Homo sapiens: one gene and its partner. The protein of the gene in region 1 purifies or fractionates together with the protein of each later gene. This does not show direct contact. Each region holds a gene or a part of one and is shown on either strand. Other genes may lie near its edges.

The links.
Region 2: the proteins of ZNF394 (region 1) and CTNNBL1 purify together in Homo sapiens (affinity purification with mass spectrometry; 2 studies listed by BioGRID and IntAct, with this or other methods). This does not show direct contact.

Annotation. Positions count from the first base shown.
Region 1 is NC_000007.14:99,492,186-99,508,745, reverse strand, and holds ZNF394 (zinc finger protein 394), read left to right. Parts: upstream 1-8,464; 5' UTR 8,465-8,652; coding exon 8,653-9,108; intron 9,109-9,903; coding exon 9,904-10,030; intron 10,031-14,114; coding exon 14,115-15,217; 3' UTR 15,218-15,506; downstream 15,507-16,560. Other genes in the region: ZKSCAN5 (zinc finger protein with KRAB and SCAN domains 5), read right to left, coding at 2,288-2,701. UniProt on the Homo sapiens protein: May be involved in transcriptional regulation.
Region 2 is NC_000020.11:37,691,526-37,707,589, reverse strand, and holds the start of CTNNBL1 (beta-catenin-like protein 1), read right to left. Parts: upstream 13,561-16,064; 5' UTR 13,468-13,560; coding exon 13,438-13,467; intron 12,664-13,437; exon of another isoform or gene 12,557-12,663; intron 1-12,556. UniProt on the Homo sapiens protein: Component of the PRP19-CDC5L complex that forms an integral part of the spliceosome and is required for activating pre-mRNA splicing.

The DNA of each region.
Region 1 (16,560 bases):
TGGGAGTCTCGCTCCATCGCCCAGGCTGGAGTGCAGTGGCGCAATCTCGGCTCACTGCAACCTCTGCCTCCCAAGTTCAAGCGATTCTACTGCCTCAGCCTCCCAAGTAGCTGAGACTACAGGTGCATGCCACCACACCCAGCTAATTTTTGTATTTTTAGTAGAGACGGGGTTTCACCATGTTGGCCCGGATGGTCTTGATCTGACCCCATGATCCACCCGCCTCAGCCTCCCAAAGTGCTGGGATTACAGGCGTGAGTCACCATGCCCGGCCAATATTGCATCTTATGTACTGGCAATCATGACCAATTTTGATAACATTGTTCTACCAGGCTATGGCCACAAAATTTCTCTCATACATTGTTGGTGGTACTCTAAATTGTTATACCCTCTATGAGGGAACCAACCTGTCAACAGCTATCAAAATTACAAATGTACTTTTTTTTTTGAGATGGAGTCTCGCTCTGTTGCCAGGCTGGAGTGCAGTGGCACAATCTCGGCTCACTGCAACCTCCGACTCCCAGGTTCAAGCGATTCTCCTGCCTCAGCCTCCCGAGTGCCTGGGATTACAGGTGCGTGCCACCACGCCCGGCTAATTTTTGTATTTTTTAGTAGAGATGGGGTTTCACCATGTTGGCCAGGATGGTCTCGATCTTCTGACCTCATGAACTGCCCACCTCGGCCTCCCCAAGTGCTGGGATTACAGGCATGAGCTACCGTGCCCGGCCTACACATGTATTTCTAAGCCAACAATTTTGAGTTTCAAGCATTCCTTCTACAGTTAATTTTATATACATATATTTTTTCAATTTAAATTTTTTTAACTTTTTACTTTTTTTTGAAATAGGGTATGCCTCTGTCACACAGGCTGGAATACAGTGGCAAAATCACAGCTCACTGCAGCCTCAAACTACCAGGTTCAAGGGATCCTGCTGCCTCAGCCTCTTGAGTAGCTGGAAGTATAAGTGCATGCCACCACACCCAGCTAATTTTTTGTTTGGTTTTTCTGGTAGAGATGGGGTCTCGCTATGCTACCCAGGCTGATGTGGAACTCCTGGTCTTAAGTGATCCTCCCACCTCAGGTGCCCAAAATGCTGGGATTACAGGTGTGAGCCACTGCGCCCAGCCTATATATATACATATATATATACACACACACATAAATATACACATATATATACACATATATATACATATATATACATATATATATACACATATACATATATACACACATATATATACACATATATACATATATACACATATATACACATATATACGCATATATATACATATATACGCAAACACATACATTATGTATATTACATACACACATATATACAGACATATATGTGAGATAGTCATTGCAGCAAAGTTTGTTATAATACAAATTTAGAAACAATCTCAAGGAACAATTTAAATGGAACAACTCAAACTCCTTCCATAAAAGTTAATACAATGCAATTTCAGAGAGTGAGATAGCTGCAATGGCAGTGGCGTGGAAGAAACCAAGATATAAGAAAAAAGAGGCAGAAGTGCACAGTGACTTAAAAGACATTTGCGTTTTTCCAAAGTATGAGACGTATATATGCTTATACATACAGAATATGGTACAGCTCTGTAAGAATACACAGGTGAGAACTAGGCAGTTGAGAGAAATTGGGGATGGGAGGAAAACTTACTTTTCATTACAACCTTATGTACCTCTTTGAATTTTGTATCATGTCACTCAAAAAATAAATACAGTGGCCGGGCATGGTGGCTCACGCCTGTAATCCCAGCACTTTGGGAAGCCGAGGTGGGAGGATCACGAGGTCAGGAGATCGAGACCATCCTGGCTAACACGGTGAAACCCCGTCTCTACTAAAAATACAAAAAAAAAAAAAAAAAAAATTAGCCGGGCCTGGTGGCGGACGCCTGCAGTCCCAGCTACTCCGGAGGCTGAGGCAGGAGAATGGCGTGAACCCGGGAGGCGGAGCTTGCAGTGAGCCGAGATCGCACCACTGCACTCCAGCATAGGCGACAGAGCGAGACTCCGTCTCAAAAATAAATAATTAAATAAATACAGTAATTTAAAAAATAAATAAGATCGCAGATTGTCTTCTACAGGTTAACACACTGGATATTGCTTCTCTTTGCTGGAGTGGCAGGAAGTCACAGGGTACCTAATCCCAGGAGAACAAAAGAATATGAATGAAGCAGCAGAGGACTAAGAATCTCACCCCTGCTCAGCAGATGGTTCACTCCTCTCCTTCATTGCTCATATAGCTTCTCTTTGACTCACCTGCTGTCTGCGTTCCTCAAGTTCTCGCTGTATATTTTCTATCACGGCCACCGCCTCTTCTCCACTTTCAGGGTGATGTTCCCTCACCCAGGGCTGGAACTCTTCAGGCAGGATGGTCAGGAACTGCTCCAGCACCAGCAGCTCCAGGATCTGCTCCTTCGTGTGCAGCTCGGGCCTCAGCCACTCACAGCAGAGCACCCGGAGTTGGCTGAGAGCCTCCCGGGGTCCTGAAGCCTCATGGTACTGGAAGTGCCTGAAGCGCTGGTAAAAAGTCTCAAACGTTGGCGGGTTGTACTCCTGCATCCAGGTGCAGTCTTCTTCTTCCACCTTCACTATGAAAAGGTCTTCCTGCTCCTGGGAAGTCTCAGCTGGGGGGTCTAAGTCTATAACTTCTCGGGATTCGGTCATTATCATTCCAACTCAGAGGGAAGTCTTCGAGGCTGGCTGTGTTACACTGAAACAATTGTTTTTCTGCTCTTTAATATCTTCTGAAGGACACTTTCAGTAGCATGCAACCTACTGATGTATTGGGCATCATTATTAGCAAAGACAGATGGCAAAGAGGTCATCTATACTAAAGACGACCACTCAACAAAGTAATTTACTTAAAAATAGGTACTACAAGGTAGCCATCACTTCACCCACAAAATGATAATAAGGAATAACCCCAACATTTTAAAAGTGTAAAAGAGAGCCATACAAATCTGACATCAGGCCCAACCTAAAACACAGTTTTAGAGTGAAGAACTTTACATTCCATATAAATAACGGGACGAGACTAACTAGTCCAGACGCAGCCGCTCTTTCTCTCTACCATAAGACGAACTTAAGTCGGAATAAGGGTGAAAATCATTATAATGGTCAAAACTGAGCCTGTTCTCTAAGCTACAAGAGCTTGACAGGCCAAGGGGAGACTCCATCGGTCCCAAAGAGAAGCAGCGTTTATAAGGTACAGATCTGGACCTGGATTCCTCAGAATGGCCCCTGACCCCGAGATACAGAGACTGTGGCCCGGTCAAGGTTAGGGACAGGACCCCCGTCCAGTCACGAAGCCCCTGCCCCCTCCCCTCAAGGCCCCACTCTAGGGGAGCTCTCCTGGAACATCAAGCTCCCCGCAGCCGAGGCTGGGAAGATGCGGTTCTTCCCACGGAGAGAAACCGAAGCCGACACTCCCCAACACTTCCTCGCCGGAAGTAACCAAGTCCAATCTTGCCCTGTCCAACGGGGTTAAACCGTTAGATCCCACCCCCCCCCGAAAGCACTTCCGCGTCCTCTCTAGGAATCCCGGAGGACCTCACCTCGCACGGGGGGCGGACCAATCGGCGGGGAGATGGGACGCGGGCCCCGAGTCCCAGCCCACCCTCAGTGACTCGGACGTCTCCAGGGCCCCCGAAGCCGCTCGCACAGCATCACCAAAGCGGGGAGGCAAACGGAGCCACTCTCTCCCCTGCTCCATCCCAAAGCCATTCAAACAGCCCAAGCTCCTCCCCTTTCCGTGGGGCGGGGAAGGGGGCGGGGCCTCCAGAGTTGGGCTGAGGTTGCTCGTGTCTGATTGGCCGGGGAGCTTGCGCCTTCCCCCACCCCCAACGCTCTGCGCCCCGATTTGAAGTAGGTCTGTACCTTGCTGACAGCCCGCAAACCTCGCTTATGTTGAATTTGGGGCCCTTAGGTTTTCTTCACCCGCATCCTCGCTACTCTCACCACCCACTTTCCAAACAAACCCACCTCTTGACCACCGCAGTCGGCTCAGAAGGCCGACATCTTCAACGTCACACCCGCGAGTCGCAGGGGCCAGCTGTTCCCGGAACTACATCTCCCAGGAGGTGGCGCGCGGGACTCGCCGGTTGGCCAATGGGGGGCGGCTCTCTTTGCAGCCTCGGTCTCGCGAGCCTATCAGAAGGTGGCAGGGCCCGGAGTCGTGTCCTCGGGAGCCAAGGCTGGAAGGCTGGGAGTGGGCGGAGGGAGCGGGGCATCCCTTTGAAGAGAGGGGCGTTGCTTACGCAGGGCTTCCCTGGCCAAGGGGGTCTCGTCCTTAATGATACCTCTCTTCAGCCAGGCGCGGGGTCCCACGCTTGTAAGCCTAGCTAGTGGACAGGCTGAAGAAGCAGGATCGCTTGAGCCCAAGAGTTCGAGACCAGCTCGGGCAACATAGCGAGACCCCTGTCTATTAGAAATACCCTCCCTTGGCCGGGCTCGGTGACTCACACCTGTAATGCCAGCACTTTGGGAGGCCGAGGTGGGTGGATCACCTGAGGCCAGGAGTTCGAGACCAGCCTGGCCAACATGGTGAAACCCCGTCTCTACTAAAAATACAAAAACTTAGCTGGGCGTGGTGGCGCGAGCCTGTAATCTCAGCCACTTGGGAGGCTGAGGCAGGAGAATCACTTGGACCCGGGAGGCTGAGGATGCAGTGAGCCGGGATCGCACCATTGCACTCCAGCCTGGGCAACATAGTGAGACCCCATCTCTTAGTAATAATCTCCCGTTTTTGTTTTGTTTTGTTTTGTTTTTTGAGACGGAGTCTCGTTGTCCCCCAGGCTGGAGTGCAATGGCACGATCTCGGCTCACTGTAACCTCTGCTCCCAGGTTCGGGCAATTCTCCTGCCTCAGCCTTTCGAGTAGCTGGGATTACAGGCACACTCACCACGCCCGGCTTATTTTGTATTTTTAGTAGAGACGGGGTTTCCCCATGTTGGCCAGGCTGGTCTCGAACTCCTGACCTCAGGTGATGCGCCCGCATCGACCTCCCAGTGCTCTCCTTTTCATATGGTGCTTTATAGTTTCCAGGCCCCAGCCCTCCCCTCCCCCTACGCCCCGCGCAGTTTACAAAGTTGATGGGCAGGCAGGAGAAGAGTTACTGTTGCCACTGTTTTACAGGCGCGAAGGAAGGAACTGCTGTGAAATTGCAGCATCTGCAAAAAGATGAGAAGATATTTAGAAGTTAAAGGTCTCTTTTCAGGGAGCCCAAAATCTTGCATTTTAAGTAGCTTCCTATCTAGGACCAAACCCCCGGTGAATGTTTGCAATGCCCGTATTTTGTGTGTTAGTGAGTTGGTATAGAATTTTGCACCTATGGCTTAATTTTGTTGCTCGTATAAAGTTGTTTAATGTCTATGAAAGTTGTTCCAGATGGGCATGGTGGCTCACGCCTGTAATCCCAACATTTTGGGAGGCCGAGGTGAGAGGATCACTAGAATCCAGGAGTTGAAGACCAGCCTGGCCTTTTTACCCCGTCTCTACAAAAAATAAAATAAAATTAGCTAGGCATGGTGGCACATGCCTATAGTCTCAGCTACTCAGCAGGCTGAGACTGGAGGATCACTTGAATTCAAGAGGTTGAGGCTGCAGTGAGTTATGATTGTGCCATTGCACTTCAGCACCTCAGTGACAGAGACACCCCGTCTCAAAAAAAAAAATGTTTGGTGGATACCCATTCTTTTCTAATATATTTACCTCCATTTAAATGATTTATTTATTTGTTTGTTTATCTATTTATTTTTTTGAGACGGAATCTCACTCTGTCGCCCAGGCTGGAGTGCCGTGGCATGATCTCGGCTCACTGCAACCTCCGCCTCCCGGGTTCAAGCGATTCTCCTGCCTCAGCCTCCTGAGTAGCTGGGATTACAGGTGTGTGCCACCACACCTGGATAACTTTTTGTATTTTTAGTAGAGATGGGGTTTCACCGTGTTACCCAGGATGGTCTCCATCTCCTGACCTCGTGATCTGCCTGCTTCGGCCTCCCAAAGTGCTGGGATTACAGGCGTGAGCCACCGCAACCGGTTTGAATTATTTATAAACACCTTTTGCATTTCAATAATTTATTTCTTAAATAGATAACACATTTGCATGAGTCAAAATTCAATAAGGCACTTAAGGTCTTCCTCTCATTCTCATTCTACATTCATTTTTCTCTCTAGAGATAGCCAAGATGACTAGTTTCCTTTTTTTTTTTTTTTTTTTTTTTTTTTGAGATGGTTTTGCTGGTTGCCTAGGCTGGAGTGAATGGCACGATCTTGGCTTAGTGAACCTCTGCCTCCTGGGTTCAAGTGATTCTCCTGCCTCAGCCTCCCGAGTAGCTGCGATTACAGGCATGCGCCACCATGCCCGGCTAATTTTGTATTTTTTAGTAGAGACGAAGTTTCTCCATGTTGGTCAGGCTGGTCTTGAACTCCCGACCTCAGGTGATCCCCTCGCCTCGGCCTCCCAAAGTGCTGGGATTACAGGCGTGAGCCACCGCACCTGGCTCCATAAGAGATATTTTTATGTCTAGTTATTAAACACACCTGGATTGATAAATAGTGTTCGGTTTGTTTGGGCGTGGGGTGGGGAGGGGGATTGCTTGAACCCAGGAGGCAGAGGTTGCAGTGAGCCGAGGTCAGGAAATCAAGACCATCCTGGCTAACATGGTGAAACCCCGTCTCTACTAAAAATACAAAAAATTAGCTGGGTGTGGTGGCACGCGCCTGTAATCCCAGCTACTTGGGAGGCTGAGATAGGAGAATCGCTTGAACCCGAGCGATACTCCCTCTCAAAAAAAAATTTTTTTATTTTTATATGGAGACACATCCTCTCTATGTTGCTCAGGCTGGCCTGGAACTCCTGGTCTCAAGCGATCGTCTCATTTTATGCAAGTTGCAAATCACCAGCAGCTTGACATCAACCAAGACACTTTGTTTTAGAGACAGAGTCTTGCTCTGTCACCCAGGCTGGAGTGCACTGGTGCGATCATATCTCACTGCAGTCTTTACCTCCTGGGCTCAAAGGATCCTCCCACCTCAGCCTCCCAAGTAAGTGGTGTATCCTGAGTTGGTTCCTTCCAGTGGGTTCATCCTCTCGCTGACTTCAAGAATGCAGCCTCCGACCTTCACTGTGTTACAGCTCTTAAAGATGGCACGGACCCAAAGAGTGAGTAGCAGCAAGATTTATTGTGAAGAGCGAAAGAACAAACCTTCCACAGCATGGCAGAGCACTCCAGCCGGTTGCCTCCGCTGACTGGGGTGGGAGCTTTTAGTCTCTTATTTGTCCCCTCCCATGTCCGTTTCTGTCGTATCAGAACGCCCTTTTTTCCATCCTCCCTGCGATTGGCTGCTTTTAGAATCCTGCTGATTGGTCCATTTTACAGAGCGCTGATTGGTGCATTTTACAAACCTCTTGCTAGCTACAGAGCGCTGATTGGTGCATTTTTACAAACCTCTTGTAAGACAGAAAAGTTGTCCAAGTCCCCACTGGACCCAGGAAGTCCAACTAGCTTCACCTCTCACTGGGACTACAGGTGTGCACCACCACACCCAGCTAATTTTTTATTTTTTGTAGACATTGGGGTCTCCAATTCTTGGCTTCAAGCGATCTTCCCCCCTCAGCCTCCCAAAATGCTGGGATTACAGGCATACGCCACTGAGCCAGGCCAGGACACATCTTTGAGCCTCAATTTCCTCATCTTTTTTGTTTGTTTGTTAGGATCAAAGTCGTTAACATCTGATGTACATGGAAGCACTTAGTTTTAAAAAAAAAACAAAACTTTTTCCAACTGGGCGCAGCGGCTCACGCCTGTAATCCAGCACTTTGGGAGGCCGGGGCAGGCGGATCACGAGGTCAGGAGTTCCAGACCAGCCTGACCAACATGGTGAAACCCCATCTCTACTAAAATACAGAAAGTAGCCGGGCATGGTGGCGCGCGCCTGTAGTCCAAGCTACTCAGGAGGCTAAGACAGCCTGGCGACAGAGCGAGAGTCCGCCTGAAAAAAGAAAAAAAAACAACTTTGTCCAACCTGGGCAATATAATGAAACCCCATCCCCACAGAAAAATTAATAAACCGGGCGTGGTCGCGCGCACCTGTAGTCCTAGATACTTGGGAGGCTGAAGCTGGAGAATTGCTTGAACCCGGGAGACAGAAGTTGCAGTGAGCCGAAATCGCGCCACTGCAGTCCAGCCTGGGCGACAGAGCCAGACCCTGTCTATTTAATCCTGAAGGTTCCCGCCCTTGCCGGAGCTCGGCCACCGGCTCGGACGCCCGTATTTCCTCGGGATGCGGGAAACCGTCAAGACCCTCTGCGTCGGGCGGGGCTAGGACGATAAACCAGCGAGATGCACCTCACCCCATCAGGCGCCTAGAGAGGCCCCGGAAATGCAGGGAAAGGTGCCGCAAGGCCTCGATGACGCGCTTCCGGCACGGGATGTTTTCGGTTGTTTGACCGAGAGAGTTGTAGGCGCAAAGCTGAGGAAAGGAGAGTGTGGAGAGGGGCCTGGTGTGGTGGGGCCCGGTGTTTGGGACCGGAGGGTGTTGACGGCTGATGAGTTCCTTGGGTTTGCTCTTTCTTCACCTGAAAAGAAGACTCCAGGAAGGGCAGCACATGCCGGAGAAAGATGAATTCCAGCTTGACCGCCCAGAGGCGCGGCAGTGACGCCGAGTTGGGACCCTGGGTGATGGCTGCGAGGTCCAAGGACGCGGCGCCGTCCCAACGCGACGGACTTTTGCCCGTGAAAGTGGAGGAAGACTCACCCGGAAGTTGGGAGCCCAACTATCCCGCGGCTTCGCCGGACCCCGAAACTTCTCGACTGCACTTTAGGCAGCTGCGTTACCAGGAGGTGGCTGGACCGGAAGAGGCGCTGAGCCGGCTCCGAGAACTCTGTCGTCGGTGGCTGAGACCCGAGCTGCTCTCCAAGGAGCAGATCCTGGAGCTGCTGGTGCTGGAGCAGTTCCTCACCATCCTGCCCGAGGAGCTTCAAGCCTGGGTGCGAGAGCACTGCCCAGAGAGCGGGGAGGAGGCGGTGGCCGTGGTGCGGGCTCTGCAGCGAGCGCTCGATGGAACCTCATCCCAGGTGAGAAGCGAAAGGCCTGTTCTGGAGGTGGGAGTGTGGAAAATAGGCGTTTAGGGGTGCTCTGCGTTTCGGAACTTACTTCCTTATTACATTTCGTGTGAACATTGGGGTGTGTATGGACTTCCTTTCTGTAGGCCACAGTGACAGATCCATCCAGGAAATGACTTGTTATAGACCTCAGCATAAAGCGAACACGGATTACTGGTTTTCTTTCTTTTTCTTTTCTTTTTTTTTTTTTTCTTGTTGTTCTTGCTGTTGTTTGAGATGGAGTTTCACTCTTGTTGCCCAGGCTGGAGTGCAATGGCGCGATCTCGGCTCGCTGCAACCTCTGACTCCCGGGTTCAAGCGATTCTCCTGCCTCAGTCTCCCGAGTAGCTGGGATTACAGGCGCCCGCCACCACGCCCGGCTAATTTTTGTATTTTTAGTAGAGACGGGGTTTCACTGTGTTGGCCAGGCTGGTCTCGAACTCCTGACCTCAGGTGATCCGCCCGCCTCGGCCTCCCAAAATGCTGGGATTACAGGCGTGAGCCACCGCGCCCGGCCTTGTTTACTTTTAATCTGTATCATATTTCCATTCCCATACATCACAGTGATATAAGTTAAAGAAATATTTTGCTCCTACCTACCTCCAAAATTAGTGTAAATAGTCCACAGAAAGGCTTTTCAGGATTACAAGAGAATGTCAGCCTCTATCTCTGATCTCTCCAAACTCCCTTGTCGGTACAAGACTCAAGAAGAGTGTTAGTGCTGTACAGGGACAGCAGGTACTGAATGGGGCTCTTGTGTTGTTCCAGGGGATGGTGACTTTCGAGGACACGGCTGTGTCTCTAACCTGGGAGGAGTGGGAGCGCCTGGACCCAGCACGGAGGGACTTCTGCAGAGAGAGTGCGCAGAAGGATTCCGGGAGCACAGTTCCGCCGAGTGAGTGCTGTTGCTCTGCTGGTTTATTGCGGTGTGTGGTTTGTGAAGGGCTGGTTCACTACCATCCCTGAGCCACTATGCCATTCCCAGACTTGGGCTGAGAGCCTTCAGGTGCCTTCTGTAACGCAAGCAGGAGCCTCTGTACTGCTAGGTGCTAGATTCAGCTTTTTACTTTGGTTCATTTTTAATGTTTTATACATACAGAAAACTATATAAAAAAAAGATAATGACCATCCCCTGTGTCTACCACCCAAGTTTATCAGATCTTAATACTTGGCCATATTGCCAAGGAAATAGTATGTTACAGCTGTAGGTGAGGCCCCCACATAGCCTCCCTGAAACCCTTCCCCTCTATCCTTCTCCAGAGGTAGCCAGTAAGCTGACTGTTGTGTTCATGACTTCCATGCATGTCTTATATTGTCTCTACATAGACACGTAGCTCCACGCTGTATATCATTACTGTATGGCTTTTTTTACTCAACATTACATTTTTGAGATTTACTCATGTTGATGCATGGAGCTCTACCTATTTCACGGTCCAGATACTCCAGAATTCTCTCCATTTCTGTTGATGGACATTTAGGTGTCTTAAGTTTTTAACCATTACAGCATTGCACCGAACATTCTTGTATATTCTTGCATATCTTTGTATATTTGTTTCTATGTTGGAGTTTTTGAAGAGAATATGCCTAGAGACAGGCAGTAGTCCCCCCTTCCTGGTTTTGCTTTCTGCGGTTTCACTTACCCACAGTACAATCAGATATTTTAAGACAGGGAGAGACCACATTCACATGACTTTTATTAAGTATAGCATTTGTTTTTCGTTTTTTATCTTTGGCTTTGGGGGTTTTTTTGAGATGGAGTTTTACTCTTGTTGCCCAGGGGGAGTGCAGTGGTGTGGTCTCAGCTCACTGCAACTTCTGCCTCCCAAGCCAAGCAATTCTCCTGCCTCTGTCTCCCGAGGAGCTGGAATTACAGTTATGCCCCACCATGCTCAGCTAATTTTGTGTTTTTAGTAGAGATGGGGTTTCACCATGTTGGCCAGACTGGTCTTGAACTCCTTACCTCAGGTGATCCTCCTGCCTCAGCCTCCCAAAGTGCTGGGATTACAGGTGTGAGACACCAAACCTAGCTAAGTATATTGTTATAATTAATAGTTACTGTTAATCTCTTAATGTCCCTAATTTATTAATTAAACTTGATTAAAGGGATGTACATATAAGGAAAAACATTATAGGCCAGGCACGGTGGCTCACGCCTGTAATCCCAGCACTTTGGGAGGCCGAGGCGGGCAGATCATGAGGTCAGGAGATTGAGACTATCCTGGCTAACACGGTGAAACCCTGTCTCTACTAAAAAATACAGAAAAAAGAATTAGCCAGGCGTGGTGGCAGGCGCCTGTAGTCCCAGCTACTCGGGAGGCTGAGGCGGGAGAATGGCGTGAACCTGAACCTGGGAGGCGGAGGTTGCAGTGAGCCGAGATCGTGCCACTGCACTCCAGCACTCCAGCCTGGGTGACAGAGCAAGACTCCGTCTCAAAAAAAAAAGAAAAAACATTTTATATATATATATACATATATATATATATATATACACACACACACACACACACACACACACACACACACGTATGTATGTATATACATATATATACACATATATATATAGGCTTTGGTACTATACACAATTTCAGGCATCACTGGGGGACTTGGAACGTGTCCCCACAGAGAAGAGGGAACAACTGTATGTTCATCTTGCTCTCCAAAGAGCCCATAACTAATGTATATGCCACCAGCAATACTAATAATTTTTCTTTCTCCATATTCTTGTCAACATTTGCTGTTGGCTGGGTACGGTGGCTCACACCTGTAATCCTAGCACTTTGGGAGGCCCAGATGGGAGGATTGTTTGAGGTCAGGAGCTCAAGACCAGCCTGGGCAACATAGCGAGACCCCATCTCTTTAAAAAAAAAAATTAATAAAAAAAATAGTAATACATTTTGGCCGGGCGTGATAGCTCAGGCCTGTAAATCTCAGCACTTTGGGAGGCCGAGGTGGGCAGATCATGAGGTCAGGAGTTCAAGACCAGCTTGGCCAACATAGTGAAACACCGTCTCTACTAGAAATACCAAAAATTAGCCGGACCTCTGATGCCTGATGTGCAGGGGCCCTGGCACCCTGCTCACCCACCCATCCCTTCTGCTGCCCTTTGCCTGCTCTGGCCACACTGCCTTGCTGCTCCAAAATATGCCAGGCCCCGCTGCCTCCTGGTCTTTGTGCTATGTGACCGCTCTGCCTGGAATATTCTACTCTACTCTGTAGGAAGCAAAGTTTCAGGGCTTTGCTCAAATTGCTCCCTTGTGCCGGGTGTGGTGGCTCATACCTGTAATCCCAGCACTTTGGGAGACCGAGGTAGCTCACACCTATAACCCTAGCACTTTGGGAGGCCGAGGCAGGTGAATCACTTGAGGTCAGGAGTTCGAGACCAGCCTGGCCAACATGGTAAAACCCCGTCTACTAAAACACCTACTAAAATACCTACTATAATACCTACTAAAATACCTACTATAATACCTACTAAAATACCTACTATAATACCTACTAAAATACCTACTAAAAATACAAAAATTAGCCAGGCCAGTTAATGGGCACCTGTAATTACAGCTACTCAGAAGGCTGAGGCAGGAGAATCACTTGAACCTGGGAGGTGGAGGTTGCAGTGAGCCGAGATCACGCCATTGCACTCCAACCTGGGTGACAGAGTGAGACTCTGTCTCAAAAAGATAAAATAAATAGGCTGGGTGCAGTGGCTCATGCCAGTAATCCCAACACTTTGGGAGGCCAAGGCAGGTGGATCACCTGAGGTCAGGAGTTTGAGACCAGCCTGACCAACATGGTGAAACCCCATCTCTACTAAAAATACAAAAATTAGCCGGGTGTGGTGGCACGTTGCCTGTAATCCCAGCTACTCTCAAGGCTGAGGCAGGGGAATTGCTTGAACCTGGGGGGCAGAGGTTGCAGTGAGCTGAGATCACTCCACTGCACTCCAGCCTTGGCAACAAGAGCGAAACTCCATCTCAAAAAAATAAAATAGCTGGGTGTGGTGGCTCACGCCTGTAATCGCAACACTTTGCAAGGCCGAGGGGGGTGGATAACAAGGTCAGAGGAGTTCGAGACCATCCTGGCCAAGATGGTGAAACCTCGTCCCCACTAAAAATACAAAAAAATTAGCCGGGTGTGGTGGTGGGTGCCTGTAATCCCAGCTACTTGGGAGGCTGAGGCAGGAGAATCACTTGAACCTGGGAGGCAGAGGTTGCAGTGAGCTGAGATCATGCCACTGCACTCCAGCCTAGGCAACAGAGCAAGACTCCATCTCAAAAATAAAATAAGATACGATAAAATAAAATATAGGCTGGGTGCTGTGGCTCACGCCTGTAATCCCAGAAGTCTGGGAGGCCGAGGCAGGCGGATCACGAGGTCAGGAGTTCAAGACCAGCCTGGCCAATATGGTGAAACACTGTCTCTACTAAAACTAGCAAAATTAGCACCTGTAATCCCTGCTACTTGGGAGGCTGAGGCAGGAGAATCACTTGAACCCAGGTGGCAGAGGTTGCAGTGAGCCGAGATCATGCCACTGCACTCCAGCCTGGGCAACAGAGTGAGACTCCATCTCAAAATAAATAAATAGCAACAGAGTAATACTCTGTCTCAAAATAAATAAATAGGGAGGCTGAGGCGAGCGGATCATGAGGTCAAGAGATAGAGACCATCCTGGCCAACATGGTGAAACCCCATCTCTAATAAAAATACAAAAATTAGCTGGGTGTGGTGGCGTGCACTTGTAATGCCAGCTACTTGGGAGGCTGAGGTAGGATAATCAGTTGAACTCGGGAGGCAGAGGTTGCAGTGAACTGAGATCGGACCACTGCACTCCAGCCTGGTGACAAAGCAAGACACCGTCTCAAAAAATAAATTAATTAATTAAAAAGTAAAAGGGGTTTGAGGGTTTAACATTCTGCCAGCACTTGCTTATTTCTGTGTTGCACAGGGATGCACTGGCAGGAATTTGTATTTTCACGTTTCAGGTTTGGAAAGCAGAGTGGAGAACAAAGAGTTGATTCCAATGCAACAAATTTTAGAAGAAGCGGAGCCACAGGGGCAACTACAAGAAGCGTTCCAGGGGAAGCGCCCCCTGTTTTCTAAGTGTGGCAGTACCCATGAGGACAGGGTGGAAAAGCAGTCCGGAGACCCCTTGCCCCTGAAACTTGAAAATTCTCCTGAAGCAGAAGGACTCAACAGCATCTCAGATGTCAATAAGAATGGTTCCATAGAAGGGGAAGACTCTAAAAATAATGAATTGCAGAACAGTGCCAGGTGTTCCAACCTTGTTCTATGTCAGCACATCCCGAAAGCAGAGAGGCCCACTGACAGTGAGGAACACGGGAACAAGTGCAAGCAAAGTTTCCACATGGTGACGTGGCACGTGCTGAAACCTCACAAGTCTGACAGTGGAGACAGTTTCCATCATTCCAGCCTTTTTGAGACCCAGAGGCAGCTCCATGAAGAAAGACCTTATAAATGTGGTAACTGTGGGAAGAGTTTCAAACAACGCTCTGACCTCTTTAGACACCAGAGAATCCACACAGGTGAGAAACCCTATGGCTGCCAAGAATGTGGGAAAAGCTTCAGCCAGAGTGCTGCCCTGACCAAGCACCAGAGGACACACACAGGCGAGAAGCCGTACACCTGTCTGAAATGTGGGGAGCGCTTCAGGCAGAATTCACACCTAAATCGTCATCAAAGTACCCACAGTAGAGACAAACATTTTAAATGTGAGGAATGCGGGGAAACCTGTCATATTTCCAACCTTTTTAGACATCAGAGACTACATAAAGGGGAAAGACCCTATAAGTGTGAAGAATGCGAGAAGAGCTTCAAACAGCGCTCTGACCTCTTTAAACACCACAGAATCCACACTGGGGAGAAGCCCTATGGATGTTCCGTCTGTGGGAAACGCTTCAATCAGAGTGCAACCCTCATTAAACACCAGAGAATTCACACTGGGGAAAAGCCTTACAAATGTCTTGAATGTGGGGAAAGATTTAGACAAAGTACACACCTTATCCGACACCAAAGAATTCATCAAAATAAAGTGCTGTCGGCTGGGCGTGGTGGCTCACGCCTATAATCCCAGCACTTTGGGAGGCCAAGGCAGGCAGATCATTTGAGATCAGGAGTTTGAAACCAGCCTGGCCAACATGGTAAAATCCTGTCTCTACTAAAAATACAAAAATGAGCCGGGCATGGTGGTGCATGCCTGTAAGCCCAGCTATTCGGGAGGCTGAGGTAGGAGAATCACTTGAACCCAGGAGGCGGAAGTTGCAGTGAGCTGAGATCATGCCACTGCACTCCAGCCTGGGCAACAGAGCGAGACTCCATCTCAAAAAAGAAATAAAGTGCTGTCATTTTGATATGTTTCTATGTGACTTGGCCTGTTTCTTTTCTTGTCCAGAACCACATTCCTTGCCATTTGGAGTATATCAGTCAATTATGGATCTTCCTTGAGTATCTCCTACAAGATAGGTTCAATCTGTCCTGAGCCTCATTACAGACTGATAGTTTCAGTGAGTGAGGAATGAGGAAGTAGGGGGCCTTCTGAAATGTGAGCTGATGCCAGGTAAGAGACTTCTGATGATAAGAGCCAGGCTGACATGTAACGGGGTTCTGTCCTTGTTATCTGCGCTCTACCTTTATGTATTATTTTTGAGACTGGGTCTCGTCGTAGCCCTCCAGCGGGAGCCCAGTGGTGTGATCGTGGTTCACTGTGGCCTCAACCTCCTGGGCTCAAGTGATCCTCTTGCCTTAACCTCCTGAGTAGCTGGGACCACAGGCACACACCACCACACCCAGCTTTTTTTTTTTTTTAAGAGATAGGGTCTTGCTATGTTGCCCAGGCTGGTCTCAACCTCCTGGGCTCAAGGAATCCTCCTGCCTCAGCTTCCCAAAGTGCTGGAATTACAGACACAAGCCACCACACCCAGCCTACCTTTATTTACTTTTTTTTTTTTTTTTTTTTTGAGATGGAGTCTCGCTCTGTCACCCAGGCTGGAGTGTAGTGGCATGATCTTGGCTCACTGCAACCTCCACCTCCTGGATTCAAGCAATTCTCCTGCCTCAGCCTTCCAAGTACTTGGGACTACAGGTGCACCATGCCATGCCCAGCTAATTTTTTGTATTTTAGTAGAGATGGGGTTTCACTGTGTTGCCTAGGCTGGTGGTGAACTCCTAAGCTCAGGCAGTCCGCCCACCTCAGCCTCCCAAAGTGCTGGGATTACACACGAGCCACCATGCCCGGCCTTTTTATTCACTTTTGAACCAAATCTTGCTCACTACAATTATTAATACTTGCCTAAGAATGTATTTTAGTCATTTAAAATTTGCCTTTGGCCTTAGATTGTAGAGAGGGTTTCAACTACTTCATAATCCCCAAAAGATCTGGTAAAGCTCAGTACTCAAAAGAAGCACTCTATT
Region 2 (16,064 bases), on another chromosome or scaffold:
AGTCACAACATTCTCTTGAGCCAAGCCTAATCCAGAGCAAGGCCCTAACTCTCTTCAGTTCTATGAAGGCTAAGAGAGGTGAGGAAGCTGCACACAAAGTTTGAAGCTAGCAGAGGCTTATTCATAAGGCTTAAGGAAAGAAGCCACTTCCATAACATGAAAGCGCAAGGTGAACCCAGAAGTGCTGATGTAGAAGCTGCAGCAAGTTAGTCAGAAGAATTAGCTAAGATCATTGATGAAGGTGGCTACACTAAACAACAGATTTTCAATGTTGACAAAACAGCCTTCTGTTGGAAGAAGAGGCCATCTAGGATTTTCACAGCTAGAGAGAAGTCAATGCCTGGCCTCAAAGCTTCAAAGGACAGGCTGATGCTCTTCTTAGGGACTAATGACTTTTAAATTGAAGCCAATGCTCATTTAGCATTTTGAAATCCTAGGGCCCTTGGGAATTATGCTAAATCTACCCTGCCTGTGTTCTAGAAATGGAATAACAAAGCCTGGATGACAGCATATCTGTTTACAGCATTGTTTACTGAATATTTTAAGCCCACTGTTAAGACCTACTGCTCAGAAAAAAAAAAATTTCTTCCAAAATATTACTGTTCATTGCCAATGCATCTGGTCACCCAAGAGGTCTGATGGAGATGTACAAGGAGATGAATGTTAATTATATGCCTGCACACACAGCATCCATTCTGCAGCCCATGGATCAAAGAGTAATTTCAACTTTCAAGTATTATTCTTTAATATTTAAGAAATGCATTCATAAGTCTATAGCTGCCATGGATAGTGATTCTTCTGATGGATCTGGGCAAAATAAATTGAAAACTTTCTGGAAAAGATTTATCATTCTAGATGCCATCAAGAACATTCATAATTCATGGGAGGAGGACAATATATTAACATTAACAGGAGTTTAGAAGAAGTTGATTCCAATCCTCGTGGATGTCTTTGAGGGGTTCAAGATTTCAGTGGAAGAACTAACTGCAGATGTGGTGGAAACAGTAAGATAACTAGAATTCGAAGCAGAGCCTGAAGATGTGACTGAATTGCTGCAATCTCATGATCAGACTTGAATGGAATGTTTCCTAAGGATAAGCAAAGAAAGTGGCTTCTAGAGATAAACTCTACTCCTAGTGAAGATGCTGTGGACATTGTTGAAATGACAACAAAGGATTTAGAATATTACATGAACTTAGATGATAAATTGGCAGCACAGTTTAAGAGAACTGACTCTAATTCTGAAAAAAGTTCTACTGTGGGTAAAACGCTATGAAACAGCACAGCTTGCTACAGAGAAATCTTTCATGAAAGGAAGAGCCAACAGATGGAGCAGACTTCATCGTTGTCTTAAGAAATTGCCACAGCCACCCCAACCTTCAGCAAACACCACCCTAATCAGTCAGCAGCCAGCAAAAGGAGGCAAGACCCTCCATCCACCAGCAAAAAGATAACTTGCTGAAGGCTCAGATGATGGTTAGCAGCTTTTAACAACAAAGCATTTTTAATTAAAGTATGTGCATTGTTCAGATACAATACTATTGCACACTTATTAGGCTGCAGTATAGTATAAACAGAACTTTAATATGCACTGGGAAACCAAAAGATTTGTATGACTTGCTTTACTGGAGTGGTTTGGAACCAAACCCTTAATATCTCCAAGGGATGCCAATATTCAGCTGAAATACTAAAGAGGTAAATGGCTGACCTTGGAGAAGGTAAAAGCAGTATCAGAATTCCTACTACATCTTCTCCTGATTCCAATTTCTCTACAGCTACACAAGACTCAGACCAAACCCAACCACTTCCTTTAGGGACACTAAGGGGAAAAAAAGACAAAGGAAGGAGTAATTTGTAAACGAGATTCTTGGCGCTAGAAAATAGGAAAACTGAGATATCTTAGTAATATTAAAGAGACCACGGGAAAATAATTACTATGGTGATGACATAATTCTTGATATAATAAAGTTGTATTTTAACCTACTGTGAACATTTCTATACTGTAGCATGTGTGGGTAACAAACTGTTCTCATTTCTTTATACAGGATTCTGAACCTTAATCTCCAAGGGACCAATGACCTTGGGAATACTGAGGCAATTTTGTAGAATTAAAAAAAAATTTTTTTTTGCCATGTTGCTGTAGCATGCGTGTTGTTAGTAATGAGATAAATAACGAAAATTAATGGGTAACACTTACTGGGCACTCACTATGTGTCAGGCACTGTACTACTTAGCAATATCCAAATTGTCTCATTTAATCCTTTATTTTTAAGAAAGATGGTAAAGCAGAAATTTTTTTAAAGATGGTTGGGCAGAGATAGACACTATTATACAATCTCTATTTTAAAGATGAAGACCTGAGGCTTAAAGAGGTTAATTAATGGACCCAAGGTCACATAGCTAGCAAGTAGCAGAGCTGAGATTCCAATGCAGGCCATCTGACCCAGAGTTCATGTTCATGCACTAAGCTAAACATTAAGGGATGCCTAACAGGCTTTGAAGTATTTTCTCCCACAGTGCTGACAAGCTATTGTGAACCATCCACATTCTCCAATGAAGTCATTTTTATATACGAAAACTTCTCTAATTGGTTAAACCTTATAAATTCAATCCCTCAATTTAAACAATGACAACTACTGAGAGACTGCAGAAAGACATGGCTGTCTTCACCAAATTCACCTTCAAAATTAGCAAGGCAACTTAGTAAGAAGACCTGTCTCCAAGGAAGCTGAACTAGGTAGGACTGAAGTCTATGACTGAAGAACAGTGTTCTCTGTTGGCCTCTGTTGGATCTCACCATGCCAATATGAGATCCACAATGATAAAAGTAAGACCACCCAGGAGGCTACTTATTTGACAGTCTTCCCTTTTTTTTTTTTGAGACAGGATCTAGCTCTGTCATCCAGGCTGGAGTGCAGTGGTGTGATCACCGCTCATTGCAACATCAATCTCCTGGTCTCAAGCAATCCTCCCACTTCAGCATCCCCAGTAGCTGGGATTATAAGCGCGCACCTCCAAACCCAGCAAATTTTTTTTTTTTTGAGACGATGTCTCACTGTGTTGCCCAGGCTGGTCTCAAACTCCTGAGCTCAAGAGATCCTCCCACCTCAGCCTCCCAAAGTGCTGGGATTACAGGTGTGAAGCACTACACCCTGTCAACAAAGTTTTAAGAGTCTAAACTAAGGTGGTGGCGGTTGGAACAGAAAGGAAGGGATGGAGAGAAGACTCCTGAAGGTGCAGCGCTCCCTCCATAAAGCCTTTTCCAACTTCCCAGCAGTAGAGCTGCTTGTGTCTTTGTGCCACCACATCTTGTTCATGGCACCATAACAGCCCTGACAGCACTGACACTCTATACTTGGATTTCAAATCTGGGGTATACCCCATTAGACTGCAAGCTCCAGGAGAGCAAAAACTGTGAGTTAATCATTTTCATATCCTAACACCTTCTTTACTCTGAGAGAGAGGCAGGCTCTGTGCTCATGAGCCTGTACCAACCATGAAGAAAAGAACCATGGCCGGGCACGGTGGCTCATGCCTGTAATCCCAGCACTTTGGGAGGTCGAGACAGGTGGATCACCTGAGGTCAGGAGTTCGAGACCAACCTGACCAACACGGAGAAACCCCGTTTCTACTAAAAATACAAAATTAGCCAGGCGTGGTGGCACATGCCTGTAATCCCGGCGACTCAGGAGGCTGAGGCAGGAGAGTCGCTTGAACCCAGGAGGCAGAGGTTGCAGTGAGCCGAGATCATGCCATTGCACTGGGCAACAAGAGCAAAACTCTGTCTCAAAAAAAAAAAAAAAAGTAAAGAACCTTGTCTTTCATCTTTGAGCCGTTTCATCTTTGAGAAATAGTTCCAAGGCTCCTTTCAAGTCTGCTGAACATCAACACCCCTGACTGAAATGCAAAGCTGGCCATGGGGATAGGCAGGGGAGGAAGCAGAGAATTATGTGATATCTGAACATCTGGCCAGAATGTTCAGTACACACACGAAACATTAATCAGGGACGGTGAACTAAGAGCTGTCTGCAAAAAGATGCTGAAAGGAAAAGAATGAATGAGTTCTTCTAAAATGATGAAGAAGAGAGTTACAGAGTCAAATTCTAGTGAAGATTCCAGAATAATGAGGCCCAAGAAAATCTTTGGCAAAAGACAGCACTGACAAGTTCAAGAATGTAGGTTTTGGACATTCTACAAAATAGCTGACCAGTACTCTTCAACATGAAAGATAACGGAAGACTAAGGAAATATGACAAACATTATGTGGGATCCTGGATAGAAACCTGGAACAGAAAAATGACCAGACATCTCTGATGGCATGTGAATTAAGTGTGCAGTTTAGTTACTAGTATTACACGAATGTTAATTCCCTAGTTTTGATCTTTACATAATGGTTATATGAGATGTTAGCTTTAGGGGAAGCTGGATGAGGAATATACGGAAACTCTACTATTTTTATAATTTTTTCTAAGTTTAAAATTCAAAATAAAAAGTTAAAAAGCAAAGAATATAGGTTTTGTAGCAAGAGTGGCAAGATATGATAATAAAGAAGAGGAAAATGATTAAGCAACTGAAGTATCAGTTGTGAACCCAATTTTCTTGAAGTCTGACATGAAAGCACAGAGATGTAGGCCAACAAGCTAACAAGATAGTAGAACAAGAGCTTTCCAGAAGGGGAAACAACCAGGGCATATACAAAGGCATGTCCCAGTTCATTCAATCATTAAACAACCATGTATTAGACATTAACTACAGTTGAGATGCTCTGCTAGGTGCTGGTCCTTGCCTCTAAGTCTACAGTTTAGTAAAAAGTGTGTGTAAGGAGGCATATAAATAGAATGTGTTTTGTAAGTGTGAGAAGAATGGGCCAGAAGAAAGAGATGATGAGAAGAACGCAGAGGGAGGAAGTGAACTTAAGGAAAAAAATCACTCATGAGATGAAAGAGAAAAACAGTCTGAAATGTTATCAATGAGAATAGCTCTGTATCTGTTCTGGTCCTCCTTATCTGTTAGAGTCACACTTCCAACAAAAAGTAACTTCAAAATGTACTAAACTGACATGCAAAAAGAGCCTATATAAAATGACTTCATGATTAGAATCATATTCTTAGGGCTACTGGGATGAGGCCTTCACAGAATGAAGGATGTATCTGAGCACCAGTTTTCAGATTTTCAGTAATGTTTCTTATACACACAACAACAACAACCAAAAAACCCATATAACAGAAAAACTCAATTACGAAATTACAATGACTACCTTATGAGGCACATAATAATACAAATGATAAACTCACACAAGAAGAAAATAATGCTTAATAAAGCAACCTTGAACTAGTATTTAATATACCTAGTAGATTAGTGGAAAAAATAAATTATGAACTAGTACTATCAAGATTGTAATAAAACTGGGGCCAGCCACAGTGGCTCACGCTTGTAATCCCAGCACTTTAGGAGACTGAGGCAGGAGGATAGCTCAAGTCCAAGAGTTCAAGACCAGCCTGGACAACACAGGGAGGCCCTGATTCTATTTTTTAAAAAAAGGTTGTAATAAAATTGGAACACACACAAACAGTATACTGTTAGCACTGTAAAACAACCAATGATTCATTCCACGTGCGTACGATGTATTACGCCACACATCTGCAGCTGAGATGAGCGTACAATGTATTACGCCACACATCTGCAGCTGAGATGAGCGTACGATGTATTACGCCACACATCTGCAGCTGAGATGAGCGTACGATGTATTACGCCACACATCTGCAGCTGAGATGAGCGTACGATGTATTACGCCACACATCTGCAGCTGAGATGACCCCCATCGTCTCCGACCACTCCCTGCTTTTTACCCATTGCTGCATTTACCCTATGCTTTGAACATTTCACTACCCTGCTTTTGCTCTTAATAATGCCAGTCAAGAATCACTGTCCCCAGTGTCCTTTACCACCCACAGAATCCCTACCCATTCATCAAGGCTAGGATTCCAGTGTCATCTCCCTTTTCTTCAATGACCAAACCAAATCCATCCCCATCGATATATCCCCTTTCCATATCCAACCGTTCCTTCCATTGTGCTCCCATAATACTTTTATTCATAGAGTTAGTTTTCTAAATGTCTGTCTTGCTCCTTACATTATGAATTCTTCTTTAATGTCCATGGTCCATGTCATAATAATTTTAGTGCATGCAATACTTGGCACAGGAGATGGCACATGGTAAATACTAATGACAGATGGGAAGGAAAAAAATGCTACATGAACAAAGCACTTCACTACAATGTTATCTCCAAGAACAAAAACCGGAAAACCACCTAAACATCCAATTGTAGAAGAACAATTTAGGGAAAATGGTCTATCACTCAAGCAAAAAGTATGCAAATATTAAAAATAACATGAAGGAGATGTAGAAACACAGAAAATATTCCTGGCAATGTTAAATTAAAAACATAGAACATAAAGTAGTATATATGCAATGGTTCTAGCCTCACAAAATACGTAAGGACTGTGGGAACAGAAAAATATTGATTGAATTAGGATAATAGTTTTCCTCTTCTCAAGCATTTTCTTTAATACTATTTCTATCACTTTATTATCATTTAAAATTTTATTTCAAAAGAAAAAACTAGGAGGGGGAAAGGAGCAAGTTTAGATATTTCTGTAAGCTCCTGCAATCCAAGAGATATGCTAAGATATTACTGATAGAGGACAAGAGGAGTGGGTGTCTGCAATATCACCAAAACCAAGGGTCCCTTAGCCTCAAATTTGCCTCAAAAAGAATACATCTCATGTCACAAGCCATACTAAATGTGAATTCTTTATTGGAAAACTTCAGAGGTAAGAACTTTTTCCAGACATCTGTGGAATCAGATTTAATGAGAGTGCCCTGGAGTTCATATATGCGCCTATGCCAGCAGAAACTTCTCAGCCAAGGCACTGCTGGGCACACTTCTTGATGAGATGTCTAAGCCTGAAGGCATCAAAAAAGTACATTTCCATATTGGGAACATAACTGGTTCCCTCTTGAAGACTTTTTCCACCACCTCCTGCCCATATTGTAATTCTCCTGTCTTCTCAAATGAATAGTTAACATATGTCAAGGATATACGGCATATACTGAGGCGCTTAGTGCCTATCTCTATTACTTGTAGAAGAACCAATCTCAGCAGAAAATTGGAATCTTCCCACCAAGTCGCCCCAAAAATGAAATGTAGTAAGCACCCAAAAAATGTTAAATACTTTTAATAAACATTTCTTGACACTGCATGATATTTTTCCTGGCTTAGTCTCTGAATTTTAGAAACGGCATCCATCTTAGTCTCTGAATTTTGGAAATGAAAAGAACCAGAAGTCATATCGCTCAGTCTCCTCATTTTACAAGCGATTGAAAAAAAATGATGTATAGAAAGGGAAAGTGACTTGTCCTGAGTCACCCAGATAAGTAATGATAAAAGTGGGATTAAAACCCAAATCTCCCAGATTCTCAGCCCCACTCAGTCTACCACATGAAGCGTTTTTATCCCTTGAAATCTCTGGAGCCCCGGTCTAAATAATTAGTACCACAGAATTTTAAAGCTAGAAGGGGCCTCAGAGAGAGTCGCGTACTTAATCCCCTCATTAGGCATATGAGGAAACTGAGGCCCAGGAAGATTAAGTGATTTGCTCTCAATATCTTGAATGGCAGGGAAAAAGTACAACTTAAGCTCAAAAATCTGCAAACCAATGCCCACAAGAGAGGAAGAGAATGTCTCAGCTGGGGAAAATTTTTCAAGGAAGGGAGATCATTTTAGACCAGGGGATCACAAAGTACAGCATCAGCATCACCTGGGATCTGGTTAGAAATGCAGAATCTAAAGTCCCACAGGAGACTGAATCAAACTCTAGGGATGGGGATGTTCAAATCAGACAATTTTGTTCCCTTATGTCCCTGAGAAGCAAACTTCAGTGGTCGTACTGAGTCTACTTTGTAAATGATAACTATAACCAAAGGCTCATAAGATGTATGTATTATTCAACATGTGGACTATACTTCAACTTTAAAAAGTTTTCAAATCTGAAAACAAAATGGAAAACTACCTCTGAGTGTTCAGCTGGTTTCAGTTCTGGCCCTGCTCCTTACTGGTTGTCTGGCTTTCGGCAGGCAGCTTGACCTCCCTAGGTTGAGTTTCCTTTCCTATAATACAGGCATGCTGCCAACCTCAGAAGGCATGTTGAGAATTAAATGTGATAACTTGTCTGAAAACACTTTGGTTCTGCATCTGGCATATAGCAGGCAGGCAGTATGGCACAGTGGTTAGGAGCTCCAACTATGAAGTAAGACTACCCGGGTACCCTGGACTTGCCTCTACCTAGCTAGATGCCTTAAGGTAGGTGCTCTTTTCTGTACCTCAGTTTCCTTATCTGTACAACAGGGATTAACAACAGTACCTTCCTCATAGGGTTGTTATGAGGATTTAGATAGATCATGCTGGTTAGTAAAGCATCTTTCATGTCTATAAAATGTTACTGTTTTCAAGGAGTTTTTTTGTTTGTTTGTTTTTTGTTTTTGAGACAGGGTCTTGCTCTGTCACCCAGGCTAGAGCACAGTGGCATGATCTTGGCTCAGTGTAACTTCTGCTTCCCAGGCTCAAGTAATCCTCCCTCCTCAGCCTCCTAAGTAGCTGGGACCACAGACACACACCACCATGCCCAGCTGATTTTTAAACTTTTTGTAGAGACAGGTTTTCACCATGTTGCCCAGGCTGGTCTGGAACTCCTGGACTCAAGAGATCCGCCTGCCTTGGCCTCCCAAAGTGCTGGGATTACAGGGGTGAACAACCACGCTTGGCCTCAAAGAACTTTTGCATCCATAAACTCATGACTTTCTGCAAGAGGATGGGTGCAACTGATTATGAACTACATTCCAGCCTTTACCATCTTTTAGGAACAGGAAGAGTGGACATGGATCTTACAAAAAGAAAACTGAATGAACAGAACACATGGGGAATGTACAGAGTTGGAAATAAGGAGACCAGGATTCTGAGATAAGGGCCAGGTGGTGTAAGGAAGCCAGGGCCTGAATAAGGTCCTGAGGTGGATTTTGGGACTGGTGCTGCTTTCCAAGCCTTAGACCATGATTCTGAATTTGGGTTCTGAAACTTAGCCTTGAATTGAGGATATTTCGCTGAGCAAAGGCCTAGAGCTGGTTTTTGGTGCCTAACGGGTGGGCCTCTCACCTCTCGAATGGTTCTAGCCGGCCAATTAACCAAAGTGGGGAACCTGCGATGGGGAAGGAGATGCTCCTGGCTGGCCAGCTGGACATGAGCATGCCCGCCCTAGGCTGGCGAGATCAAAGTGCTCTCCAGTAGCAGACTTAGGAGGTTTCAGCCCTGTTACTGGTTCAGTTCAGTGTTGTCAACCTGAATTAAATGAGTTCTAGTATTGTAGTTCCTTATTGTGCAACCAACATATTTGCATTTTAAAACTCTTAGATTGAACCCTCAGATACAATAGAAAATGTAAAGGCCAAGATCCAGGATAAGGAAGGCAAGTAATATTTTGCAGTTCAGGAAAATTAGCCTGTGGCAACCCCAATCTACCTGTAGGCGCTAGGCATATTTGCTCTTGGTGAGGGGGAAAGGGGTCAGATTGACAAAATGAAATACTTTTGGAATAACACAATAAACAAATGTTTATGATCACGAAGCAAAGCTACCTAGATTGGAATCCTTGAGGTACATTTCACTTGTGTGAATCTGGACACGTTTTTTATTCTCTATACCTATTCCCTCATCTTTAAAATGAAGGTTCCTATATTAACATATTAAGTACTGCCATTAAGATTAAATGTGGTAAGATGTGTAAACATTAAAAAATAATAATAAGGAGACCAGGATTCTAGTTTCAACTCTGGCCACCATCTTGGCCCACAACCTCAGGTGAGTCCCTTTATCAGACTAAGGTTCACTTTCATCCATGAACAAGTGGGTTGAATGAAGGTATCTACCGTATCTCTCAAAGTCAAGGTCTTTATCGTGGCCCACAAGGAAGGCCTACATAGTCTTGTCACATGCCTACATCTTCAGCTTTGTCACTTACCATTCCCCTGCTCACTTCCCGTTTCAGCTACATAGATCCTCTTTCTGGTCCCCTATGAGGCTGCACCAGCTTCTACCAATAGCCTATGTCCATACTTGCTGTTCTTGCTGCCTCCATCATTCTGCTCCCTTCACATGACTGGGTCCCTCTCAACCTTCAGTCCTTTAATGCCCATTCCTCTGTGTCCTTCCTCGACCACATTACATAAAGTAAAAGGTCCTGTCCCCAACTCCCAGGGGTTATTTTCGACAGGAGTGTTGTCCAATAAAAATACAACAAAAGCCACAAACAAAACACCTAACTTTACATTTTCTTTCTTTTTTTTTTTCTTTGAGAGAGAGTTTCGCTCTTGTTGCCCAGGCTGGAGTGCAATGGGATGATCTCAGCTCACTGCAACCTCTACCTCCCAGGTTCAAGCAATTCTCCTGCCTCAGCCTCCCAAGTAGCTGGGATTACAGGCATGCACCACCACGCCCGGCTAATTTTTTATATTTTTAGTAGAGACATGGTTTCTTCATGTTGGTCAGGCTGGTCTCAAACTCCCAACCTCAGGTGACCCACCCGCCTCAGCCTTCCAAAGTGCTGGGATTACAGGCATGAGCTACCACACCCGGCCCACTTTACATTTTCTAGTAGCCACATTTTAAAAGTTTTTTAAAAAGCAACATTAATTTTAATAATATATTTTCTTTAATCCAATATATCGTAAGTGTTATCATTTATTCAACATGTAATCAGCATAAAAGTTAAGGTACTGTACATTATTTTCACGTGGCCAGGGGCAGTGGCTCACGCCTGTAATCACAGCACTTTGGGAGGCCAAGGCTGGCAGATCACCTGAGGTTGGGAGTCAAGACCAGCCTGACCAACATGGAGAAACCCCATCTCTACTAAAAATACAAAAATTAGCCAGGCGTGGTGGCGCATGCCCGTAATCCCAGCTACTCAGGAGGCTGAGGCAGGAGAATCGCTTGAACCCAAGAGGCAGAGGTTGCAGTCAGCTGAGATCTCACCATTGCACTCCAGCCTGGGCAACAAGAGTGAAACTCCATCTCAAAAAAAAAAAAAAAAAAAAAAAAAGATATTGTACATTATTTTCATACTAAATCTTTGAAATCCAGTGTGTATTTTGCACATGTAGCAGATCTAAATTCGAAACTAGTCACATTTTAAGTATTCAATAATCACATGTGCCTAGTGGCTACTATACAAAGCAGTGCAATTTTATAGCATACTCTGCTATATTCCCTTCCCAGCACTTACCACAAACTGAATGCATTGTTTACTTATTATCTTGTAACTTCCCACCAGATGCTCCACAAAAGCAAGAATCTTGTCTTTTATTCAGTGTTGTATACCCAGTGGATAGACTGCCTTGCACACAGTAGGTGTTCAATATATATTTGTTGAGCAAATGAATGAAACTCTTCTAGCTTTAATGGGCTAGCCATTCTAGAAATTCCAAGCCGGCATACAATCACTGATTTAATAACTTGCCTATTTCCCTTCATCTTTCACTATCAATTAAACTGTCTTTAAAAGAAAAATCTCTTGGCTATATAGCTCCCCATTGCTGAACTGTTCTTTCCCATGATGTCTTAAGCGTCCAGGGTCAATTTCTTGTACTTTGGCTGAGGGAGTGGTATGAAAATAACTGCTAATATTTACTGAATGTTTACTCTTTGGCAAGCATTGTCTAAGGACTTTCCATTTCTCAACAGCTTCACAACAGCCCTGTGAGGCAGCTACCGTCACTGTCCCCCATTTACAGATGAAGAAACCAAGGCAGAGAGAAATTAAGTATTTTGTTCAAGGTTACAGCAGCCAGTTAGTAGCAAAACAGAGACTGCCAGCAACCTAGGGGTCCAGACTCATGGCTCTTAATCACCTATTCTTGACTGCAGGGCTGTCTAACAAAAATATAAGCTGAACTATATATGTTGTTTTAAATTTTCTAGTAAACACATTAAAATGTCAAGAGGGGCAGTTAAAATTGGTTTTAAACATATTTTATTGGCTGAGTGTGGTGTGTGGTGGCTCATACCTGTAATCCCAGCACTTTGGGAGGCCAAGTGGGAAGACTGCTTGAGGCTAGGAGTTTGAGACCATCTTGGGCAACATAGCAAGACCCTGTCTCTACAAAAAATTTAAAAATCAGCCAAGCATAGTGATGCCTGCCTGCAGTCCTAGCTACTTGGGAGGATACCTTAGACCTAGGAGTTTAAGGCTACTGTGAGCAATGATTGTGCCACTGCACTCCAGCATGGGCGACAGAGCAAGATCCTGTCTCTAAATAACAATAAAATAAAATTTTAAAAATTAATTAAGTATATTTTATTTCACCCATTATCCAAAATATGATCATTTAATCAATATGACCAATAACCAATGTAATTGATATAATCAGTACGATCATGTAATCAATATAAAAATTTCACTTTTTCCATACTAGTCTCCAACCCAAATGTGTCTTTATACTTACAGTATTTCTCAATTCAGACTAGTCACATTTCAAGCAATCAACAGCCTATGTGGCTAGTGGCTACGACATTCGGCAGTGCAGCTCTACTGCTCCTCGCAATGACCCTCCTATGGAATCAAAGTGGGGGAAAAACTTTGGGGTGGAAGTCAGTACGCCTGAGCTCAAATTCCAGCTCCTTGTTTCTGAGTGACTTTGGACAAGCCCTTTCTGCTCTCTAGGTCCCATACAGTTTCCCCACAAGTTTCCTAGGCAAGGGGGACCCTGAGCAAGATTCCTAGAAACTCATTCCATGCTAGAATTCCCAACATCTCCTGCAAATCGCAGTAAACACAAGCACAGCTTTCCACACTTTAAAACCAGCTTTCATACATATCAGTTGGTACAGTCCTCAAACAACCCTACTAAGGCAGTTATTAGTGTCTCCACTATATAGATACAAAAACTTGGTTCAAAGAGGGGGGGAATGACTTGTCCAAAAGCCACATAGCCAGTCAGTGGAGAAGCTGGAGATCAAATCCAAGTGAGACCAGTGCACTCCCACCGCCGCCACCACCATCACCTCAATGACTGGGGGGACATGAGAGCTGAGAGGACATGGTTGTGAAAAAAAGGATAGTCTGGGGTTTCAGAGGAGTTTCAGGGAACCAGGCCCCAGGGTGAGGAAGAGGAGGTGAAGGGCTCAGGTCTTGAGAAGGGATGAATCGAAAGGGCCCAGGAGGGCTTCGGAGAGCAAAGTAAAACGAGGGGCTGAGACCCCGGGTGGCATGAGAAGTTAGAGGGCCCGGGAGTGAGGCGAGAGGAGGTGAGATGAAAGGGCTCTGGCTCCTGCGACCCCTGCCCAGGTGAGAACGCGGTCGCTCGGCCCTCCCTGCCCCTCATACCTGGTAGCTCAGAAGTTCGCCCACGTCCATGGTACCCGGCCCAGCAAATACTCCACTTCCCTGCACTCACGCCCAGACCGCGGGCCCGTCAGCCGCGGCTCCAGCCACACTGCCGTAAAGTGCGGCGAGCGGAGCCGCAGAGCCAATAGGGCAAAAGTGCGAGCGACAAGCGAGCCGGCCACACCGCGGTAAAAGGACGCGCCGCCGTAAAGCGCGCTGCATTTGGAACAGGGTTGCTTCCGCCTGGAGCCTGAGGGGGCGGGGAAAGGGGGCGGAGACTTAGAGGAGGGGCGGGAGGGGAGAGCAGGGACCAGAAGAAACCAAACTTGATTGCGCGTCCCTAGTGTCCAGGGCGGAGTGCCGGGTGTTTCGTGTGCGCTCTCACGAGCTTCCAGTGATTTATCCTCATTTCACAGAAAAGGAAACTGACGCTCCCAACTGCACCATCCAATACTTTACTCACTAGCCACATATGGCTACCGAGCGCTTGAGATATGGCTACTCCGAAGTGAGATGTGCCATAAGTGTAAATAAAATACACACCAGATTTCTAAGACTTACATTGATTACAGGTTGAAATGATATTTTGGATATACTGGGTCAAATTCATATATTATAAAATGAATTTTACCTGTTTCTCTTTACTTCTTAAATGTGGTTAGTAGAAAGTTTTAAATTACACATGTGGCTCTCATTTGTGGTTCCCATTAATTTCTATCAGATAGTGCTGGCTCAAAAAGTGACTTGTTCCAAGGCTGTACAACTATTACTGGCTGAGAAACTATTGGTGATCACATGTCCCTCTCTAGGCTTGTGTCTGCTCATCTATGCGAAGTCTAACGGTCACTAGATGATCCCCTTGCTACCCAGGTGATATAAAAAGGTTTCTGGAGGAGAAAGTTGCCCATAATTGGAAGAGAATCATTCAGAGTGCATCTGATCTTAAACAAGATCAGAATGCACCTGGGACTTAAGGCTCCATCTTCAAAGGAAATTAAACCTCCTTCCATAAGCCCCTGTCCTTTATATTTATAATTATATTTATGTATTATATTATATTTATATGCCCTTCATATTTATAATTTTGGTCCCCATCCCATCTGCACTGGCTCCAATTATACAGAAATTATTCTTATTCCTCAGAATGACAAATCCTCTCCCCTTCTGCCTGGCCATCAGCACCATACCTCATCCAATTCTCTCATCTTTCGGGTCTCAAATGTCACTTTCTTACAAGGGCTTCTTCAACTCACCCTGGTCCAGGTAATCAACCTCTCTCCTCATTATTCTTTTTCCAAGTACCTGCTCCACTACGTATATATCTCATTCTGTAATTTTGTGCTTAATGGTTGACTATTTGTTTCTTGACAGCCTCATTTACTGGATTGCAAGCTCTATGCAAGCAGGACATGTGTGTGTCATGTTCACCACTGTATCCCCCAAGCCTAGTACAGTGCCTGGTAGAGGGAGAGGTTTCATAATGGGCCTTGTGTGCCATGGTAAAGAGATTAGATTTTGGCTAGGCGTGGCCGGGCGTGGTGGCTCACGCCTGTAAGCTCAGCACTTTAGGAGGCCAAGGCGGGCAGATCACTTGAAGTCAGGAGTTTGAGACCAGCCTGACCACCATGGTGAAACCTCGTCTCTACTAAAAATTACAAAAATTAGCTGGGCATGGTGGCACATGCCTCTACTTGGGAGGCTGAAGCAGGAGAATCGCTTGAACCCAGGAGGCAGAGGCTGTAGTGAGCTGAGATTCCACCACTGCACTCCAGCCTGGGTGACAGAGCAAGACTCTGTCTCAAAAAAAAAAAAAAAAAAAAGAGAGAGAGATTGGATTTTATGCTAACGGCATAAGGAAAGTTTTAAGCAAGGTAGTTTTGTGACTGGGCTTATGTTTTTAAAGGATCACCTATGCAATCTGCATTGAATTCAGTCTATTTGGGTGTCTTTCCCCCTCCTACTTATATAAGAATATGGACTGTGCCCGGCCGGGTGTGGTAGCTCACGCCTGTAATCCCAGCACTTTGGGAGGCCGAGGAGGGCAGATCACGAGGTCAGGAGATTGAGATCTTCCTGGCCCACATGGTGAAAACCCATCTCTACTAAAATACAAAAAATTAGCCAGGTGTGGTGGCACGTGCCTGTAGTCCCAGCTACTTGGGAGGCTGAGGCAGGGGAATCGCTTGAACCAGGGAGGTGGAGATTGTAGTGAGCCAAGATGGCACCACTGCACTCCAGCCTGGCGACAGAGCAAGACTACGTCTCAAAAAAAAAAAAAAAAAATAGAATATAGACTGTGCCTTGTTTGGGAAGACAGGAGAGAGTAATGGTGAGGGTGTACCCTTTGGACCCAGACCCCTGTGTTCTAGTTCATGGTATGTTGATGCCAGCTTGCACAGACAGGTCTACAAAAGCCCATGGTTAAATTTGTAGGAAACTTGCAAGCTGATTGACACCAGGTTGATAGCTTGAAATCAGCCATGCTAGGAGTATTTGTACAATGTAAATCAGCAAATGCTACAAATCAGGGTTGTTAATGTTGTTGTTTTTCCAGAGAGCTACTTGTAGGGTTTTTTTGTTTCTTTGTTTGCTTTTGAGACAAGCTCGGGCTCTATCACCCAGGCTGG